Linked DNA regions of Homo sapiens. The protein of the gene in region 2 purifies or fractionates together with the protein of the main gene of each other region. This does not show direct contact. Each region holds a gene or a part of one and is shown on either strand. Other genes may lie near its edges.

Evidence for each region.
Region 1: the proteins of BTN3A1 (region 2) and SLC36A4 fractionate together in Homo sapiens (co-fractionation; one large-scale study listed by BioGRID). This does not show direct contact.

What each region holds. Positions count from the first base shown.
Region 1 is NC_000011.10:93,159,992-93,163,491, forward strand, and holds part of SLC36A4 (neutral amino acid uniporter 4), read right to left. Parts: intron 2,885-3,500; coding exon 2,715-2,884; intron 1-2,714.
Region 2 is NC_000006.12:26,408,476-26,412,706, reverse strand, and holds part of BTN3A1 (butyrophilin subfamily 3 member A1 isoform a precursor), read right to left. Parts: exon of another isoform or gene 3,985-4,231; coding exon of another isoform or gene 3,846-3,984; intron 3,175-3,845; coding exon 2,974-3,174; intron 2,814-2,973; coding exon 2,793-2,813; intron 2,702-2,792; coding exon 2,675-2,701; intron 1,599-2,674; coding exon 1,572-1,598; intron 1,153-1,571; coding exon 1,126-1,152; intron 296-1,125; coding exon of another isoform or gene 177-295; exon of another isoform or gene 3-176; coding exon of another isoform or gene 1-2. UniProt on the Homo sapiens protein: Plays a role in T-cell activation and in the adaptive immune response. Regulates the proliferation of activated T-cells. Regulates the release of cytokines and IFNG by activated T-cells.

The sequences.
Region 1 (3,500 bases), on a different chromosome or scaffold from region 2:
AATCTCTAACTTTCGAGGCCTCTTGTGTGAAGCACAGGAAAGAAGTGAAAGAGAGACTCGTATATAGTATATTAAGAAAGAAATCTTAAATGTAATCCCATGATTATTCTAGTCCAAACTTCTCACTTTACAGAATGCCATGACTGTAAAAAGACAAGCAACTCTTCTCTTGTATTCCTCAGTTGTGACTATTATTTTAATTGTCCCACAACTGCAGAGTCCACACAGAAACAGACTATAGGCTGCATAGGGCATATCTCCACAGTGCAAAGGCATTAACCAATGCAAATTCTCTAAAGGGAAATATGTGTCTTGACTGGCTTTCCTGTTTTTTCCAGATTTTTGTTGTTTCTTAGGATACTTGTACTAGGGTTTCCTCTAATGAAAGGTGGTGTCTAGCTAGACTTCCTTGAATAGAAACTATGATCTAATGGTCCCTTTTAAATCAAGAGTCTCAACTAGTTCCATTCTAATTGGAAAGTCACAGCAATTAGGAATAAGGTCAGATGTAGAAAGGGGCTGTGGGAAAAGGGAAGGATTAATTGGAGCTACTGCAGGGACAGTGTCACCCTCCAAGATTGAGTTGTGAATACCAAAAGCATTCTGTCTTATTCTCGCCCACTATTTCTACACCACATTCTTATGTGCCTGGTAATACAAACCTTTCAATGTGAATGTGTGCACACTCCCACTTTGGAAACTTCCCCCCTAAAATATTCCTTACATGCTTTTGTAAATAAGACCGGGAAAGAATTTTGACATTATTTCCATGTACCTTTTACATTTGGCATTAAAAATAGTTGTCAATTTCTGAAATGATTATTTTTAAGACCTAGTCAAAATATTATTGTTATTATTAATATTATTGAGACAAAATGTCTCTCTGTTTCCCAGGCTGGAGTGCAGTGGTACCATCACAGCTCACTGTATAATCAACCTCCCAGGCTCAAGTGATCCTCCCACTCAGCCTCCCAAATAGCTGCAATTACAGACTTGTGCCACCATGCCTGGCTAATTTTTAAATTCTGTGTAGATTTGGAGTTTCACTATGTTATGCAGGCTAGTCTCAAACTTCTGGCCTCAAGTGATCCTCCCACCTTTTCCTCCCAAAGCACTGGGATTCCAGACATAAGCCACCATACCCGGCTCAAAATATTCTTCTAAATGAGGAAAAAATATCATTCTATTTTCCAAACATTGTACAGTATTTGAAAAGATGAACTTACTACCATATTTTTAGCTTGATTCTCTTATACTAAGCTGTTTAAGCTTGAAACCAAAAAGCACATTTGAAGGCAATAAAATTATATAATTAACTATAAAGAGTTAATAAAATAAATGCTAAATAACCATATATCTTATTTGTAATAATAACTCCACCTTGAAATATATTTGTAACATTTGAGACATGTTTCCATTTTGAAATACATTTATGTTAGCTGAAGTTAAATTGTAATTTAAAAATACAGACACACCACATGTATGCTCCTTGTGCAATGTGGAAACTATCCTAGGTCCATTTGCTCTGTCATAAATGGCTTCCTACAAACATTTGTCCTAGCAACATTTTTGACTCCAATAAATGCCCAGGATTCAAATGACTATTAAATGACAGACAAATTCTCACCAGGAGGCCAGTCAGAAGATATAATTTCTGCTGTTGTTGCTTTTTCACTAATATAGTAAGACATTTAAGATTACACAGATTTTTTTAATCCAAGTAGCTAAAGTAGTAGTGTGACAATAATTCAATCAGCGATTCCAAATTTATTCTTTGCGTATGTGAAAACTAAGGAGTTACCTTCCATCTTGTAAATAAGGAAGTAAGTCTGCATGGTAATCACTGCCACTATCTTTGAAAATTTTCCAAAGACAAACCTCTGGAAAAAGGAAAAATCATATACATATGATGCTTCATTTAGCAGGATATGGTCCCAATATGAAAGAGAACATTAAGATGATGCACCATTTTGTTTTATTATTTATAATGTGTCCCAACTGTGTTCTGAAAGGACTTGGAAAATATACACTATGAAGCTGACCAAAATAGCAAGGACCATAAATGATGTAATCTATTATTTTATTAGGAAGCGTGAGTGTTTGGCTTTTTTGGCAATAAGGACAAGTATTAATTTTTTTATTAAAACGTGTCCATATTAAAATAATCCCTGTTCTACTCTTATACTTGACTTGGATTTGGAAAAAACTCCAATTTTAAATATTTTTTTAAAAATCCCACAAGAACCCTAAGTTCATATTTGGTCTCCTACGAAGATTATGAAAAAATTCCAGATTGCACAAATAAATAAATCACAGTAATTTTTTTTTTGTTTTGAGACGGAGTTTCGCTCTTGTCACCCAGGCTGGATTGCAATGGTGTGATCTCAGCTCACTGCAACCTCCGCCTCCCGGGTTCAAGCGATTCTCCTGCCTCAGCCTCCTGAGTAGCTGGGATTATAGGCACCCGCCACCACGCCTGGCTAATTTTTGTATTTTTAGTACAGATGGGGTTTCATTATGTTGGCCAGGCTGGTCTTGAACTCCCGACCTCAGGTGATCCGCCCACCTCTGCCTCCCAAAGTGATGGGATTCCAGGAAATCACAGTAAAAATTTTAAATGTTTAAACCATAAATCCAAGAACACGACTTTATCATCAAACAGTGGTACATTATAAAATATATAAACTAATATTGACAAATTCATATACACCTACCATACATCTTGGGGAAGATTTAAAGTTATGCTGCCTTTGATTTCATCATGGAAACACATATATCCTAAAGTAGCTAATGTTACATACAAAGTTGTAACAATCCCCATGCCAATATTCAACGCTTGAGGGAAACGCTTTGATTCTTTCATTTGGTTTTCCAGTGGAAGGACCTAAGAAAAGAATACAATACTTTTTTTTAAGGGAATACAAGTATTTAAAAATAACAGTGTCTCTTATACATACAAATTGGTTGTTTATAGCCTATATGCAAATTTTTTTCCTTTAAAACACATATAATTGTTGAAGTACACTTCCATTGCTATATATTTATACTACCTATTTTAAACTTCTTAAAAAGATTTAAACTCATCTCTTGGCAGGCAAACCTGTTAGTTTTTTTTTTAAATAACCTTTTTATTTTGGGATAATTTTAGATTTACAGAAAAGTTACAAAGATAACACAGAGATCTCCCATATACCCCTCACCCAGTTTCTCCTACCATTAACTTTTTATATTACGATAGTACATTTGCGACAACTAAAAACCAATATTGGTACATCACTATTAACTAAACTGCAAATTTCATTTGGATTTCATTAGTTTTTCCATTAATATCCTTTTTCTGTCCCAGAGCTCCATCCAGGATACCCACAGTGCATTTTGTCACCATGCCTCCTGTCTGATCGTTTCTCAATCCTTGCTTGTTGTTCATTATCTTGCCAGTTTTAAGGAGTACTGGTTTGGTATTTTACATAAAACCCCTCCATTTAGGTTTTTCTGAGGTT
Region 2 (4,231 bases):
ACCTGAAAAATGGGGATAAACAAATGAATCTCTAGCGCTGTAGAAGGCAATCATGTTATTTACTCAGCCCACAGCAGGCCATGAAGGAAGCTCCTCATCTTCCTGATAGCTGCAAGGCCGTCTCTGTGCTGGGCTCTATGTGGTGCCTTATATGCCCTAGATTCACTCTCCACCCTTCAGCTTTCTCCACCCTCTTCTGGGCCCCAGGAATCTGTCCTCTGGGCAGATTCCTGAGACAGTGCCACTGGGCTCCCTTGTCCTCTGGTTTGCTGTTGGGTTTGGCCAATGGGAGGCCCTGATAGGAGATTGGAAGGAGAAAGAAAGGAGAGACACACCGTTTAATTTCCTGCTTCCTCCCTGCCAGCAGCAGCTGCTGCTGCTCTAACAAGGCCTGAAGACTCTTCTCAGGGAGCCCTCTCTTTGAGCTACTTCTTATTCTGGGTTCCAGTAACTGCCTCCCCTCCCTAGCCGTCCCAGTGTAGGAGTGGAGACAGCTCCCCACTGTTGGGAACCATGGGGGCACTGCACTTTTCCTTGTTGCTTTCCCTTAACCCTCCTTTCTGCAAACCTTCAACCACGCAGTTTGAACTCATCATCTCCTTCTTAAGGTTTTTGACCAATGGATATTTATTATTCCTTCAGTCTTCACCTCAACCCCCACAAACACAGATTGAAATCATCACCTAAATATGTGGAGGCCAAAGCTCAGAAGCATTAAGTTTTTTTGAGAAGGCACTGACAGTAGGTGGCATGAGAAGTCTGGGAAGGACTAAGTTCTTTGGGCAGGCATCGCCTCCTTTCCTTGGCATTTCCATCCTCACTCTCCCTGCAGTATTACTCAGTGTGTGTCTCCTTCCCCTCAGATCCACCCTTTATATGTCTTCCTTCCCAGGAAGGTCTGAGGAAGTGCAAGAGATCTATTCGCCCTGGTTCCCTGGGCTCTCAGCAGAAAGGGTCTTGGAGATGGGCCCACTTTTCAGATTGGAATTTAATGTTGCCTACCCCAAATTCTCCTAGTCATGGGAGCTTTTCTTCCCCAAATCACAACAGTTGGAGAAGTAAAAAGGAAAAAGGAATATAGTCCCTCAGGTTGTTGGTCCAGGGAACACACAGTGATTTACTCACCAGGCTTGAAGAGGGCCTTTTTCCATTCTGAAAGGAAGGAGACACAGATAAGGAAAAGGTCAGTATTCTTGTACTTTTCCCCACTGCACTCTCCCCTCACTACATGTTTTCTCTCCTTTTCTTCAGAGTCTCTTCCAGGGTCCAGCCTCCCTCTTCTACAGCTCTGATGGATCAGGGGTGGTACCTTCTCAAAAATGGTGAGCTCTGTTCCCTCTGCAATGAAGGGTACAGGCTGCAAGGCCAGGCTTTGCAAGGGGGTGTGCAGGGTCAGGAGTCTCTCTGATTCTCCAGAAAAGCAGAAATCAACCCCCCACAACACACAAATTGAGTCTTTGGGTTAAATCTGATTCATGCAAATGAGAACATCAATGGGTCACAGCAGAGAAAAGGTTGAAATGTTCATGGCACGTGTCCCAGCAAACTCAGAGAGCATCAGGTTCACTCACCATTATAGGCTGAATGTCTCTCTCCCCCTACAATGAAAAAAAGATAGAGATGTCACCTGAACTTGCCATTTTTGATTTGGCCCCATTCCCTTAACTTTACATCCATCTAATCTTTTTTTTTTTTTTTTTTTTTTTACCACCTGTATCTTCCTCCTCTGCAGGTTCAATTCTTTCTATTGTGTTGTTCTTAGTATCAAATCCAGGAACATCAGTCGAATGCTAGTGACATGGCAGACATTGCGAGAGTTCCTTCCTGATGGTGTTCAGCTGATCTATTTGGAATGTATCTATATACCTGTACCTGGGCATAGGTGTCTCCATGTCTATATGCACATATATATATACACATATATATATACATATATATGCACATATATATGTGTATATATGTATATATGTGTATATATATATTTAAATGTGTGTATGTGTGTGTGTGTGTTTGCAAGATCCTTCTATATCAATCTAATTTCGTACCTTACTCTGAAAAGAATTTGGGAAATTTAATGAGCAATTTCAGGGACTAGTGTTTGAAGTCAGTTAGAATAAATTGGTACCAACTGAGCGACTGTTCAGGCCACTTTTGTTTATTAGACACACTTTTCTCCCTCTCTCTTTTCAGATTTTCTTGTTCTTTATTATCTTTTATTCTTTTTCTTCTCTGGAGCCTATAGATTATGTAAAATGACTAGTGAAGTTCCTGCCATAGAGAATGCACTTCATCTACCTCTTCCCCCTTCCTTTACAAATGTGCCCCTGGATATTCCTCAGTGCTTTGCAGGGCTATAGAGTCTGTGGCCCCTGGTAGAGATAAATTGAAGGCATCTTTTCTTCGAGACCAGCTGAGAAAGAGAAAGAGAGGGAGAAAGAAACACTCCTCCTGGGTGTTACTCCAATCAGCCACACTCTTTCTTTTTTCCTTTCTTCTCTTTCCTTTTTTTTTTTTTCTTTTTGGCAATGACTAGGAATTGGCACATCTATTTTCTTTCCTTAGTCAAAGGGATCTAAGACCACTTCCCAACCTTGGGGAAAGAGTTAAGAGTGGAAACTATTCAAGCACAGACAGTTATAGATTCAAATTCAGAGAAAATGTCAGAGGCACTTACGAGATGCATACTGGATACTTCTCCATCCTGCAACGGAAGGAACAGGGGAAGATGCATCAAGGCGCATAAAGCAGGGACAGGAAGACATGCCTGGGTCTCTGGGGGAATGGGAACTTACTGAGTTCCTCCAGGAGCTTCACTGGAAAATAAGCAGAAATAATAATGAACTGTTACAGGTGAGGGGGTTTTCTAAAAAATTAACCTTAAAAGCAACTGAGCTCTGCGGTGGGGATGGGCGTGAGGTCTTTGGGCTTTGGCCCGTAAGCCAGGGGCTCAGATAAACTCCCAAGGTCAGCTACCTCTTGTGCTTTGTTCTTGCTTCATTGTGCTCCATGCCATTTCTCTCAACTCTTGCTCTCTCTTTTTCTTTCTGAACTGAGTCTTTTTTTCCTCCTGCTGTTGCCACAGGAAGTAACCGGCTCCCCCAAGAAGCAGCAGCAAGACAGGCAGGGTCCCTGCCAGGGCGGCGATCCACCTCTGGGCGCTCCTGAAGAAGGGGTCTGTGAAGGCAACGGCTGTGGGTCATGGGGGCCGGTGCACTCAGCCTCCCCAGACTGCAGCGCCCCAAGTGTTAGCTGCTCACCCCAGGTCACAGGGCACGGAATCTATCTCATGAGGTTAAATAATCTTTCTCATGCTAAAATCTCAGAGGACAGTGGGTAAGACTTTGATAAACCCCCACTAGAGGCTGCTACTATTACTTCTCTTGAGACGTCTGCCTCTCATGTGGAAAGTGAGTGACTTGAGGATATCAAACATATTTTTTTCTAATTCAACTTTTTAATAGGTAACACATGTACATGGTTCTAAAATACATGTATAAAAAGTCACGTAAGTCTCCCATCCACCCAGTCCTCCCTCCCACCCTCCCTTTCTTAACTTCAAATTAGTCTGCTTAATATGATGCTTAAGAACAGGAACTTTGGAGCTGGAGGCCCTGGGTGTCAATGCTGGCTCCTTTAGGTGACTTGCAGTGTGACTTTAGACTAATTACTTAACCTCTCTGTTCCTACTGCCCTTCTCCTGAAGTTAGAAGGATTAAATTAATACTTATAAAGTGCCTGACACCTAGTGAGTGTTATGACATTACTTGTTAACTTAAAAAAATGTAAATAAAAATATATTCTTGTTTTTCCTCTTATTTGCACTAAAGATAGCATTCCATACACACCACTCTGCATTTTGCTCTTTCTGTGCAAAGTTAATCTTGGAGGTTTTTCCACTTCACTATAGAGAGAATTATCTCTTTTTTCTTTCACAGTTGAGTGGTATCCATTGCATGAAAGTTCTCCAGCAGTGAACATCTGCATAGTTTCCAACCTTGTGCAGTCATAATCAGTGCTATAAAAAATAACTTTTTACATGGATCATCTCATACAAATGCAAGCTTATCTACCAAATAAATTCCCAGAAGCGGAATTTTGGATCACTAAAGATGTAGTTTGGATAGATATTGTTATATAGCCCCCAACAGAGGTTGTGCTAATGCACACCAAAAATACAAGTCATCCCAGCAGATGCCTAGGAGTCACAGCCTTCCTACATTCCTGCCATAAC